Regions from separate parts of the Homo sapiens genome. Here region 2 is linked to region 1. A link means that fine-mapping ties the variant in region 1 to the expression of a gene that starts in the linked region. Tissue or cell type: whole blood. Region 1 holds a variant in brackets; the other region holds the start of a gene. All regions are shown on one strand. Distances are between the middles of the regions.

The links. PIP is the estimated chance that this variant, and not a neighbour inherited with it, causes the effect.
Region 2: FBXO2 starts here. The variant in region 1 is fine-mapped to the expression of FBXO2 in whole blood (TOPMed, PIP above 0.99).

The regions. Positions count from the first base shown.
Region 1 is chr1:11,468,871-11,476,659 of GRCh38, forward strand. No RefSeq gene overlaps it. Among named protein-coding and RNA genes, the nearest start is that of DISP3, 6.4 kb to the right of the region's middle. The variant T/C (reference allele first, on the strand shown) is at 3,388.
Region 2 is chr1:11,651,584-11,656,583 of GRCh38, forward strand. It overlaps FBXO2 (F-box protein 2), which reads right to left and starts at 2,846. Exons shown (of 6, transcript NM_012168.6): 1 at 2,736-2,846. The coding sequence starts at 2,757. It overlaps FBXO44 (F-box protein 44), which reads left to right and starts at 3,294. Exons shown (of 6, transcript NM_033182.7): 1 at 3,294-3,369; 2 at 4,223-4,517. The coding sequence starts at 4,253. RefSeq lists silencers at 2,796-2,935, 3,176-3,405, 3,456-3,525.

The DNA.
Region 1 (7,789 bases):
CCCCTAGAGAGTCATCATGCACCCTCACGCTTAGACAACAGACTGTATATAGAAAACACATCAGCCTATGATAAATGCAGAAATAGATGTGTGAAATTGTTCCAGGAGCAAAGAGGAGAGAGAATTGAAGGCTCTCTGGGGGAAAGAGTAGGGTAGGGCGTGGGGGTGGCTTCCCCATGGAAAGGATGTGCTGGGCCCTAAGGATGAGTAATATTCCCACTGGTAGGGAAGAAGGGAAGGAGCACTCCAGGTAGAGGGAGTGGTGTGGGGAAGGGCTGGGAGGCAGGAAGGAGCCGGCATGTTTGAGCAACAATCAAGCCAGGCGGGTCGGGGCTGCTGGGGGTGTGGACAGGGACTGCCAATTAATGGGGTCAGAGAGACGTCATTGAGGAGGAGCAGACCTTGAGTGCCATGTTCAATGTCAGGGCTGTGTCTGTCCCTCAGGCAGTGGGGTGGGGGACATGCAGTGCTTGGAGCAACAGACACTCCCCAAGTGACCGGCAGGAGTGGCTGGAGTGTCTTAGGTCTCCTATGAGCCCAGTGGGGAGCAAGACTTGAATTTGGGGTTTCTACAGGCACCCATGCCGTGGGAACCCTGCAAAGTGAGCAAGTTTCAAGCGTAGGAAGCCCCAAGGCACTCAGCTGGAGTTAAGGAGGAGTGTGTTTTAGAAATAAACAATTCAGTAAGAAAGGGCAAGCTTCCAGCTGAGGCAGGTACAAGAGAAAGCATGAGAGTGGGAAGAGGAGCTCACCTGGGTTGTGGCATTGGAGGAGACTGGCTGAGCCACAGGTGGGACCCATGAACCTTAGAGACATGAGGCTGCAGCGGGAAACCCTTAGGCCTGGGAACCAGTCAGACCCCAGTTCAAAGGGCTTTGCCATTTACTAGCTGTGTGACCTTGGACTTATGACTTAACCTCACTTTCCAAGATTATTGTGGAGACAAAACAATAATATGGCTGGGCTGGGTGCAGTGGCTCATGCCTGTAATCCCAGCACTTTGGGAGGCCGAGGCAGGTGGATCACTTGAGGTCAGGAGTTCAAGACCAGCCTGGCCAACATGGCGAAACCCCATCTCTACTAGAATTACAAAAATTAGCCAGGTGTGGTGGCGGGTACCTGTAATCCCAGCTACTTGGGAGGCTGAGGCAGGAGAATTGGTTGAACCCAGAAGATGGGGGTTGCAGTAGGCCAAGATCGTGCCATTGCACTCCATCCTCAGTGACAGAGTAAGACTCCATCTCAAAATAATAAAATAATAATAATAATAATAATACAGCTGAGGCCAGGTGTGGTCTCATACCTGTAATCCCAATGTTTTGGAAAGCTGAGGTGGGAGGATTACTTGAGCCCAGGAATTTGAGGTTGCAGTGAGCTATGAAGGCACCACTGTACTCCAGCCTGGACCAAAGAACAAGACTCTGTCTCTAAAAATATAATAATAATAATAATAATGATAACGGCTGACATTCACTGAGCACTTCTTATGTCTGGGCATCGATCTCACAACTTTCCAGGCACCCCCTAACTTCTTAGCACAGCATCGAGATGTAGGCACTTCTATTAGCCCCTTTTACAATGAGGAAATTGATGCACAGAAAGGTTAGGTGACTGTCCAAAGTCACACAGCTAGTAAGCGACGGAGCTGGGATTTGAACCCAGATCATTGGTTTCCAGGGCTTGTGCTCTGAACCTACATGCTCTATATATGATATGAGCAATTTGCACATCACACAAAGGGCACATAGAAAAATGTTGGCTATTACCTTGTAATCTAAATCCTACCAAATATTTGGCAGAGGAAACAACTCCTAGGAAATGAGTCTTCAGGGGCCCCCACGGGCTGGAAGGAATATGTTTTTCCAAGTTATTTAGATCCACAATGAGATGGAGTAGGGCAATCACATTACCTGGGGACAGCTATGTGCTGGTCACACTATACACACAGACTTATTTGATCCTCACAGCTGCTCTTTGAGGCAGGTGTTGTCTCCATTTTACAGGTGAGGAAACAGGCTCAGAGAGTTGAGGCGACTTGGCCAACATCACCCAGCCAGTAAGTGACACAGCTATGAATAGACTGAAGTATGTCTGTCCACAAACTCCATATTCTGAGCCACCTGCTCTGCACGCCCCTTTGATTGGATTGAAAATGATGACAACCACAACATCCTTGGGGACAGGGGAAGTCCTCTGAACTTAGGTCCCACATGTGATGGTCTGGTTCCACTTTCCTGAGTCAGTGGAATGTTGACCATCAGCTGACCCCTGGCTGTGTGTACACACATTGGGAAGTAGAGGTTGAGAAGGAACAGAGAATGAAGCACACTAGGGGTGGGGATGAAATCAGCTTAGAGTTTTAAATAAAAATTAAAAGAAAAAAAGGCGTCTGCCAAACAACACATCCAAGATCAAAAGAGAATGGATGGCACCATCTCTGGTCTTTTTGCCCCATGTGTGATGAAGTGCTACTGTCCCCCAAAGAGCAAAGGAGCAGGAGAGTGTGGGATCGAAGTCAGCTGGGCTATACAAACCCTGACCTCTCTGACCTATATTTTCCTCATCTGTGAAAGAGAGATGATTATTCTCCAAGGGTTGTTATGAAGATTAAAGAAGATGGTACAGGCCTTGTCACACAGTAAGTACTCAGTAAATGTTTACTGTCATCATTATCAAAGCAAGGAATGATTGTAAAGGAAAGAAGGCAGGGAGTTTGGGAGTGTGGGAGAGAGACAGGAAAGAAGACAAGGAGAAGGAAGAGGAGAAGGGGTGGAGAAGGAGGAAAAAGAGGTGGAGGAGGAGGAAAAAGAGAAGGAGGAGGAGGAGTAGAGGAGGAGGACTTGCTGCCAGCCCAGCTCTCCAAGCACAGCCAGCTGTGCTGTCCTGGCCTGGGCTGCTCCCCATGTGGCCATTTAGGCCACTCATGCATTCCTTCTGCATCCTGCTGCCAGATGTGGCCCTAGATGCCAGCAAGAACAGCTGTCCTTTGTCGTGCCCAGCTGCAAAATGAGAATGCAGGGATGTTGGGAAGGGCGCAGAGGCTTGGAGGGGTGGCCAAAAGGACAGTACTGTCAGGAGGAAACCACACCACCATGCTCACCCGCCCTGGGCCTCAGTCTCCCCATTTGTGAAATGATAGGCTAGGCGATGACTTGGCATTTTGTGCCAGGTGATGCCAATCCCACGGTGTGTTTACAGCTAGTGGCCCTGGCCCCTGCATCTTGTCCTGGAAGTATGGGCATGACTCGGCCCTCCTGGGTCCTGGAAACTACCCTGCCAGTTTGCAGGATGGCATGACTCTGCTGGTTTCCAGGGAAGAATCTCATCAAATGAAGCCATTCTCAAGTTGGAATGTGAGCTCTGCCTTAGAAAGTTTCCCTTGGTAGA[T/C]TGGGCTCAGAGAGAGGCTGTGACTTCCCTAAGGATGAACAGGGAGATGAGTTTAGTTGTGATTAGACTTAGGGTGAGACCTCAGTGCCACAGTAGGGAGTGCTGAGAGTGGGCACCCAACAGGGACTTAGTTCCATGGAGAGCAGAAGAGTAGAGCAGATAAACAGTATCTACCGCATCAGCAACGTTGGGTTCAAATCCTCTCCATTACTGTGACCCTCACCATGTCTTTCAACCTCTCTGACCCTCAGTTTTTCCAACTGTAAAATGGGAAGAATAATGTCATATAGAACTTGGGCTATAGTCAAACTGCCTGGGTGGGTTTGACTGGGTTGCTACCTGCTGTAGCAACTTACTACTCTCTGTACCTCAATTTCCTCATTTGGAAATGAGGATGATAAGAGGACTTGCTTCATGGGGTGGTTGTGAGTTTGAAGGAAATAATACATACATAGGATCTGGCAATCAAGAAATGGCAGCCATTAATGATTATTGTTGCTGATGTTGTTAGTAGCATCCCTTGCTGCATAAAAAAGTATTTTAACTGCCAGGACACTGATGATCTGCCTACCAGCCCTACATGTCAGTTCAGGGGTCCTGGCACTGAACAGGCTCCACCCTGCCTACACTGAAAGTGCCGGAATAGGAGCTGGCACTGAGGCAGCCCATCAGAGCTGCACAGATTCCTGACTGGGACGATGCCAGAAAAGCTCTTTCTTGCTGTCACTGCTGAGGCTCAGATGGGATTTGGTGGCCAGGGTTAAAGCTGACCTGGCTCCTGGCACCAGTGGGCCAGCCAGGCTGACTGGGGTGGTCAAAGGCACTGGGCAACTTGTGCCGGGAAACCAAAGCCAGAGAGACAGAGGAGCAGGGCAGAGTGGGGAGGTGGGGCTGGGATTCTGTGCTGAGTCACGAAGAGCCCGTACACAGGTAGGTGCACCAGGAACCTTAGATATTCCTAGGAGGGGGCACAGAGGAAGACCCCTACCCTCTGAAGGTTTAAGCAACCCCACTGGGCACTCAAAAGTCAGGTGTGTCCTGGTGTGGTGGCTCATGACTGTACTCCTAGCACTTTGGGAGGCCAAGGTCTCTAAAACTCTGTCTCTAAAAATATAATAATAATAATAATAATGGCTGACATTTACTGAGCACTTCTTATGTCTGGGCATCAATCTTTGGAAGGCCGAGGTGGAACATTGCTTGAGCCCAGGAGTTTGAGACCAGCCTGGGCAACATGGCAAAACCCCATCTCTACGGAAGAAAAAATTAGTTGGGCATGGTGGCCCATGCCTGTAGCCCTAGCTACTCAGGAGGCTGAGAAAATTACCTAAGCCCAGGAAGATCGAGGCTGCTGTGAGTCGTGATCACACCACTGCACCCCAGCCTGGGTGACAGAGAGAGACCTCATAAAAAAAAAAAGCCAGTTGTAACTGCTATTCTTGAACCTGGACCTGCTCAACATCACTCACCCTGAACATCATACTGCCTCCGAGTACTCAACTCGGTGGCTGAGTTCTTGCCCCTCATCCCTTCGCCCTCATCTCCACCCCAGCTGCCAGCAGCCACTGTCCATGGTTCTGAAACACCCCAGGGACAAGGCCTGTGCTGGGACTTCTACTCAGCCTTTCCCAGGAGTTCTGAACAAGATGATGACTTTTATTTTCTGTTTTGATAAAAGATATGTGGTTTCTTTTACCACCGCAGAACCAACAAATGTGTGACTGTGGCTTAACTATTTATGTGCCTGCCTTCACACACTTTTGGCGGTTCCATCACATTGACCACTGCTCCCGTTTACCTCCTTGGAAAATCGGGGATTGCATATTCCCTGTGGCCTCCTACCCAGTCTGAACTCATTCTGTCTTCCCATATTCTCCTGGAAGATCACAGTCAGAGGGGCCCTGGAGCACATCTAGCTCATGTACTCATCTGTCAAATAGAAACAAGAGGCCAAAGATGGAAGGTCACCAAGACCACAGAGCATGTTAGAGCAAATCTAGGGTCAGCATCCTGGCCTCCTAACTGCCCATCTGCCTTGTTCCCCATCACCCTATACTTCTCTGGGGGTCAGGAGATCTCCTTCTGGAGCTTTTTCTGGATCAAACACAAGCACAGCCATTTATTCCAGCCCACTCTGTACCATTCACTGTACTGCTATGTGCCCCTGCAAAGCATGTCCCTTAATCCTCCTCCATGGGAAGGGGTGGCCACTGCCCCCAGCTTACAGGTCAGGACATGAGCTCAGAGATGCAAAGGGCTTCTCCAGAAACCACAAAGCTGGTATGTGACTGAGCTGGGATTAAAACTAGAACTTTTTGGGTATTTATGACCTCCTTTCAGGCCGGTTCTATCAATAAGAACCCTCAGGGTATCCACGTAAAACCCTCAACCTGGAGGTTATAATCTCTCCCCAACAATGGGACTGTCTTTGGCTAATGTCACACTGTCCAGATCTTTGGCAGGATCCTGCTCTTCCCTGCCAATGCCTTGGCTCTGCTATGCTAATAGCCCCTCGGGTCTAACCCCTCCAGTGACTTTTCCTCTTGAAGAACTCAGCAATATTTAGTCTTCTCCAGATGTTGGGGTCAGAGCAAAGACCCCTAGAAATGTGGATGGGGGACAAGGGGGCCGTCTTGTTGGAAGAGGATTATGCGACAGCGTGAATATTGATGAAGCTGTAATTGGCTCCCTCTCTCAGAGCCTGGGTGTCTGCAGGCCCAGGCGCTGGGGCTAATTGTTGCAGGCAATTAATAACTTGGATTGTACTCACTCTGGCACAGGATGCCTGCTCTCTTGGAGGAGGCAGGCAAGGCTGAGAAAGGAGTGCTAGGCCTGGCTGTTTGCAGAATTCTGGGGGAGGCAGGAGGGGAGAGCTGCCATCTGTCCAGCCTCCCCCAGGCCGTGTCTGCAATACCCCTGCCCTAAGCCTAGCCCTGTCAGCCTTCCTCAGGCCCTTCTTCAGAGCTCTCTCTGTTCTCTTTAATTATGAGACCCTCTAATGTTTTCCCCAACCATAAGCTCATGCTCATCTCCTGAACAGAGCTTCAGGGAGGAAGGCGCTGGGGAGAGGAAGGATGGTGTTTCTGGAAGCTGGGAGAACTGGAGTCCAACCCAAGCTCTTCCACTAAGTTTCTATGTGACTTGGAGTCAGAAATTCATTCACCAGGAACTTGGGCAAGCTCCTTGAGTTTTTTTGTGTCTATTATGTCACATGAAGTGCAATCAACCCTGAAAATAATGGAAACAGGGATTAATCATCCTATTATCACTTCCTATATATAGTTATAACTATATCTAGAACTAATTATCAAATGGCTACCTATAAATCTGTGTTCTACTTTAGCTGAAGAGACTATTAAGCAGGAATATTTTTGGCAGTGGTCATTATGACTCCCACTTTGCAGATGAGGAAACTAAGTCTCAGAGAAATGCAGTGACTTGCCCAAGGTCATACTAATAAAAGACACACATAAAAATCAAACCCAGTTTCCTAAATCTAGAGCTCTTTCCAGCATACCCCAGCCTACCTGACTCTGCCCAGTGGCTTCCTGGAGAAGGTGAGATTGGGGCTGGGGGCCAAGAGCGCCAAAGTCAATGCCTTAGCAGATTGAAGAGGGGATTACTTATAAATCCATTTATTCTATTCCCTGGTGCTGGGACAGTGCCTTAATACCATATTTTAAAAGATAAACACTCCCAACCCTCCCCATATGCTCAACCCTCAGCTGCTCACCCATCTGGTGGGAGGACTTGATTTGCATACAACCCCCCTTCACGGGGCGGTGTGGAGGGGTGTCACAAAAAGTGAGATGTGTTATGGTCAGCACTTGCCAAGTAAGCGGTAACAATATGATGAAGAAACTGCTAATGTGTATTTAGTGCTTAATGTGTGCCACAAACTGTGCTAAATGCAATTTTTGCACAGAGATGATCTCATTTATAACTATAACCACTGCAATGAGACAGATATTCTTACCATCCCCACTTTATAGATGAGACAACTGGGGCTCAGCAAGGTGAAGTGACTTTCCCAAGGTCACGCAGCTGGTAAGGGGCAGAACAGAAATATGGCTTTACTGGGAGAGGTAGAATCAGAAGCTCAGCTCAGAGGCTCTGCTTCAGACCTAGTTGGAGAGAAAATAGAAGTAGAAATAAAGGGATAGGAAGAGAGGACAAAGCAGCCCTTTATAGCTCATATCCCTTGCAAAGAAGGCTTTTCAATTAGTTGTGAAGACAGAGTATAAGGGGAGCAGCTTATCGGCACCATGAGGCATTTAAATCAGACCCAGGAAGAACTTCCACCAGACAGCACTGGAACAAGGAGCCAGAGGGGACACAGAATCTTAATCTCTGCAGCCTTTCAGCTGGGTGGATCATTATCCACCAGAGTCATCTTTACTAC
Region 2 (5,000 bases), 180 kb after region 1:
GGCTAATCAGTGGTTGGAGCCTGGATTTGAACCCAGACAGCCTGGCTCCAGAGCCATCTTAAACCACCACAGCCTCCACAGAATAATTCACTGAATTAGTAGGCAGTGTTAGGATTTTGACTTTTTTTTTTTTTTTGATATGGAGTCTCGCTTGCTCTGTCACTGCTCAATCTCAGCTCACTGCAACCTCTGCCTCCCGGGTAGCTGGAAGCTGAGAAGCGATTCTTCTGCCTCAGCCTCCCAAGTACTGGGATGACAGGCATGTGCCACCACGCCTGGCTAATTTTTGTATTTTTAGTAGAGACTGGTTTCACCATGTTGGCATGGCTGGTCTCAAACTCCTGACCTCAGGTGATCCACCCGCCTCAGCCTCCCAAAGTGCTGGGATTAAAGGCGTCAGCCACCACGCCCGGCTGACTTTTCTTTTTAAAGATAGGGTCTCACTCTGTTGCTCAGGCTGACCTCCAACTCCTGGACTCAAGCAATCTTCCTGCCTCGGCCTCCTAAAGTTCTGGGATTACAGTCATGCTCCACTACACCCAGGCCAGGATTTTGACTTTGCAGGTGCAAATGCTCAGGCTCAGGGATGAAGTGACTTGTTGAAGGACACACTGCCAGTATTTAGGGAAGGGGACATGGGACCTGGGGCCTTCAGGGGCTGGAGAACAGAGCCTGGAGACCCAGCTGTCCCCAGCTATTGTGTGACTTGGGGATGAGGAGGGACTTATTAAAAGAAACTCTATCAAGCAAGGAGATGACATAGGGGCTTGGGGAAGGAAACTTTCTCCACCTCCTTTTCCCATCCGTGGCCCTCAGTTTTCTCATCTATAAAATGGGGGTAATCATTGTGCCAGGCCATACAAACAGGACAGACGTCCAAATCCCCTGAGGAAGGGGACAAGGGCATTCTGAATTGTAAGGAGGCAGGCAGATGTCACCGCGGCAGCCGGACTGTCTCTTGCATCCCAGTCGGCTTCAGCTGGGCCATCACAGCCTTGAGTAAGTGGACACCGAGTGCCCAAGATGCCTGGACGAGGGAGAGCCAGTGAGGAGGAGACGGGGCCACTCTGGGTGATCAGGAAGACTACAGCTCTCAGACCTACGGATGGGGAGTTCCCATGGGCTAGGCCCTGGAGAGCCAAGGCGGTGGTGGGAACAGGCCAGGCACTGGGGAAGGGGACAGGTGGCAGGACCCAGACCCAAGTCTCCAGGCCCACCAGCCCCTAACCTCCTCATATGCAGCCTCTCCTCCCTGCCCAACCCACAGTCAGGCCCTTGAGAGCTTTCACAGAGCCCAGAGCACACAGTGAGTCCTCAGTCAATCTTACTGAGTGAACCTCATTGAACACAGCACTTCTCCTTCCTTATTAACATTTTTTTGGCCACATCTTTATGATGTGGGGATTTACACCGGCCCCTTTGGCAAAGAGGAAACTGAGGCCAAAAAAGGCTTAACAGCTTCTCCCAGACCACATCGCAGAACGGCAGGAAGACAGAGGAAAATGCCAGGCCCTGAAGTCACATCACCTGCCCAGGCAGATGCCCACAGCTCTCTGGGGAGCTAGGCCCAGTGTCCTCACCTCTCCAGCCCTCCCTCCGGCCCTGGCCCCATCGGACACCTGATGCTCCCCGAAAGGTGCACCTCACCCAGTCCCCTCTTCTGGCCCCGGGGCCTGGCACTCGAGGCCCCAGATCCAATTACAGCTCCCCCCACCCTCTCTCTTACACACACAACTCCCCACATTGTTGCCGGCGGAAAGTTATCTGGCCCCTGGAAGCTGCCTGCCTGCGAGGCTGACTCACTCACCTGGAGTGGGCCCCAGAGTCCAGGGTATAGCTGATCCCTGGGAAAAAGCAGGAGCCAGTTCTGGAGCCCTACAGAGGGTGTGGCCAGAAGGCCGTGGATTGGGAGCAAGGGCTGCGAGAGCTGGAATTTTCAGGGCTGGAGGCGGGGGAATGGGGGGTGAGGGGGGGCCTGAGCTTTCATCAGTCTGTTTGCCACCGCCTAACCCAAGCAATGCCCATCCCCAGCTGGACCTGATGAGGAAAGAGTGAGGGCTGTCTGCAGGCAGGTCTTGTTTCCATCCTGACTCAGCAGGCAACCCCTGCAGGCCCCGCAGGGAGTTGGAGGGATGGGGGTGAGGGGTCTTGGGTGCCAGAGAGGATGACTGGGCAGCCTGGGAAGGCCCTGAGCACCAGCCAAAGCTGCCCCCAACGCTCCCTCACCGCTAGTCGGGTCCCCACTGGGCATCTCACCACCCCGGGGAGGGGCAGCCCCTCCAGACAAGGGAGCTCAGGAGGAAGGCAGGAATAGGTGAGGCCAGGCCTGGGACCCCAAGGAACCCACGGGGATTCAGACGGCCCAAGGCCCAGAGCTGGAAGAGCTGATGAAAGAAAAGGCTCGCAGCCTCCCTCCCAGACGCATCCCAGGCCCCCGCCAGACAGACCCTCAGGAAGCTGGGAGGCGGGAATGTGGGGGTCCTCTGGTGCTACTTCCTGGCTAAATGGGACCCAGGAGTTCTCTCTCCTTGCCAGTCGCCTCTCAAGGCCTCCCGCCAGACCAAGATAGCAGAGAGACGTGCTCTTTGGAGACCGCCTCTAGGGCTTCGCTGGCGTGAAAGTTTGCCGCGCCAGGTCTCCGGGTCCCCTCGCTCTCTGACGCCCCTCTGTGCAGCGCTCGCCCGCCGACCCCATCTCCCCTCCCCGCCGCAGCGAGCGGTCCAGGCGTCGGCTACCTGGGTCACCGTCTCCGTCCATCGCTGCGGAGGGCGGTCGCGAGAGGAGGAGCCGGAGCGCTGCGGGCTGCGCGAGTCCCGGGGCGGCGAGTCCCGGCGCTGTCCGCGTCTGTGTCGGTCCCGGCGACCGCGCCTCTTAAAGGCCCCCGACCCGACCCGCCCCGCCCCGCCTCTGGCCCCGCGCCCGGCCGCCCCGCAGTCCCAGCAGTCTGCTCGAGGCCCGGGGCTGCGGGTTCCTCAGCGGACCGAGGAGGCTGGGAAAGGTCAGGAGTCGTTTTTTTTCCAACTGGGGAGGGGTCCGATTTGGGGCATCTCGCAGCTCGCTCCTGGGGGACTGCTGGGAGGAGGCGGCTAGGGGAGGCACGGAGAGGCTGGGTCAGGCCGAGGGTGAGGGGCGGGTGGCCCAGGCGGAGTCGGAGTATAGGAGGTGCCTTCCGCCCCACCCCCCACACCAGGTAATTTTCCTACGACGCGGTGGGGGTGCGTCCCTGGCCCAGCGCTGCGCGGGGCGGGGCGCGGGGCGCGGGGGCGGGGCCTGGCGGGCCGGGGCGGGGCCTCGCTTTCCAGGCAAGCGCAGGTCCAGGCGGTGCAGCTTGGGCGGCCCAACGGATCGTGCCGCGGCGGCCGAGCGCAGGTGACCGGCAGGAGGGGGCGCGGGGGGCGCTGGGGAGGGGGCGCGGCTGGGCGGGGGCTGCCGGGAAGGCTCCTGGGTTCCGGGTCGCGCCGCAGTTGCCGAGGGAGGCCTGGCACCGACCAGGCCCAGGCCGCCGAGCTTGCCCGGGCTGCGCTGCGCGGCTGCGAACGGGGGCTGGGGTCGCCATCGATGTACAGGGGTCCGAGCCCAGACTTTGGGGGGCATTTTAAGGCACAGCGTGGGAAGGGGAGGCTGCAGGCGCGCTGGCGGACTTGGGGCTGGCGGAGCCCAGCCGCGGGGCTGGGGGTGGGAGTGGGGGTGGGGAGATAGGAAGGGCCCTTCCCTGTCGCCCACCCTCTTGCCACTCCCACCTAGGCAGGAGATCATGTCCTCTGAGATCTTGAGAAGGTGGCTGGAGCCCTTTGGACCTCCGCGGGAGGCAGTGATAATTAGCCTCCTCCTCCCATCATGTTCTGAGGATGGGAGAGAGGATGGTGACGGCACCGGAGGCCTGGGGTGCTCTGCCCGGCTGCGCATTATATCCCCATTAAAGACTGGCCTACTGAAAAAGGCTGGCCCTGGAATCAAAGAAGATCCGGGCTTCTTCCCCCTCTGCCCTTATTTTTGACCTTGGGCAGTGCCTTCCACCTCTATTGTGAGAGGCCAGAGAAAAAAATCAGAGCTCACCTTTTATTAAAGTACCTGATGTGTCCCAAGCTCCTTGGACCGCCCCAGTGACCCCTGGAGGTAAGGCATCCATTTACAGAGAAGGAAACAGGCTGGGAGAGGCACCATGCTCTCCCGAGATAAATGGCAGAGCAGGGATGAGGCCTGCAGCATAGCTTTTCAACAGCTACAGGAGGGTGTCCAGAAGCCACAAGCCATGGCTGTGGGGAACATCAACGAGCTGCCCGAGAACATCCTGCTGGAGCTGTTCACGCACGTGCCCGCCCGCCAGCTGCTGCTGAACTGCCGCCTGGTCTGCAGCCTCTGGCGGGACCTCATCGACCTCGTGACCCTCTGGAAACGCAAGTGCCTGCGAGAGGGCTTCATCACTGAGGACTGGGACCAGCCCGTGGCCGACTGGAAGATCTTCTACTTCTTACGGAGCCTGCACAGGAACCTCCTGCACAACCCGTGCGCTGAAGGTGGGGTACAGGCCGGGTCTGGCATGCCTCCAGTACACAGTCATGACACCAGGAACATGTATTGAGCACTTAGTATGAGCCGGGTACTTTGGATGGTTTAACACCTTTACTTCTCTCACAGTAACCCAAAGAGGTAGCTACTGTTAGTGCACACATTTTTCAGATGGGCAAACTGAGGCCAAGAGTGGTGTTTCTTATTCTTACTATACTCTTTTTTTTTTTTTTTTTTTTTTGAGACGGAGTTTCACTCTGTCACCCAGGCTGGAGTACAGTGACACAATCTTGGCTCACTGTAACCTCCACCTCCCAAGTTCAGCCTCCCAAGTAGCTGGGATTACAGGCATGTGCCACCACACCTGGCTAATTTTTTTTTTTTTTTTAGATGGAGTCTCGCTCTGTTGCCCAAGCTGGAGTGCAATGGTGCGATCTCGGCTCACTGCAACCTCCACCTCCTGGGTTCAAGCGATTCTCCTGCCTCAGCCT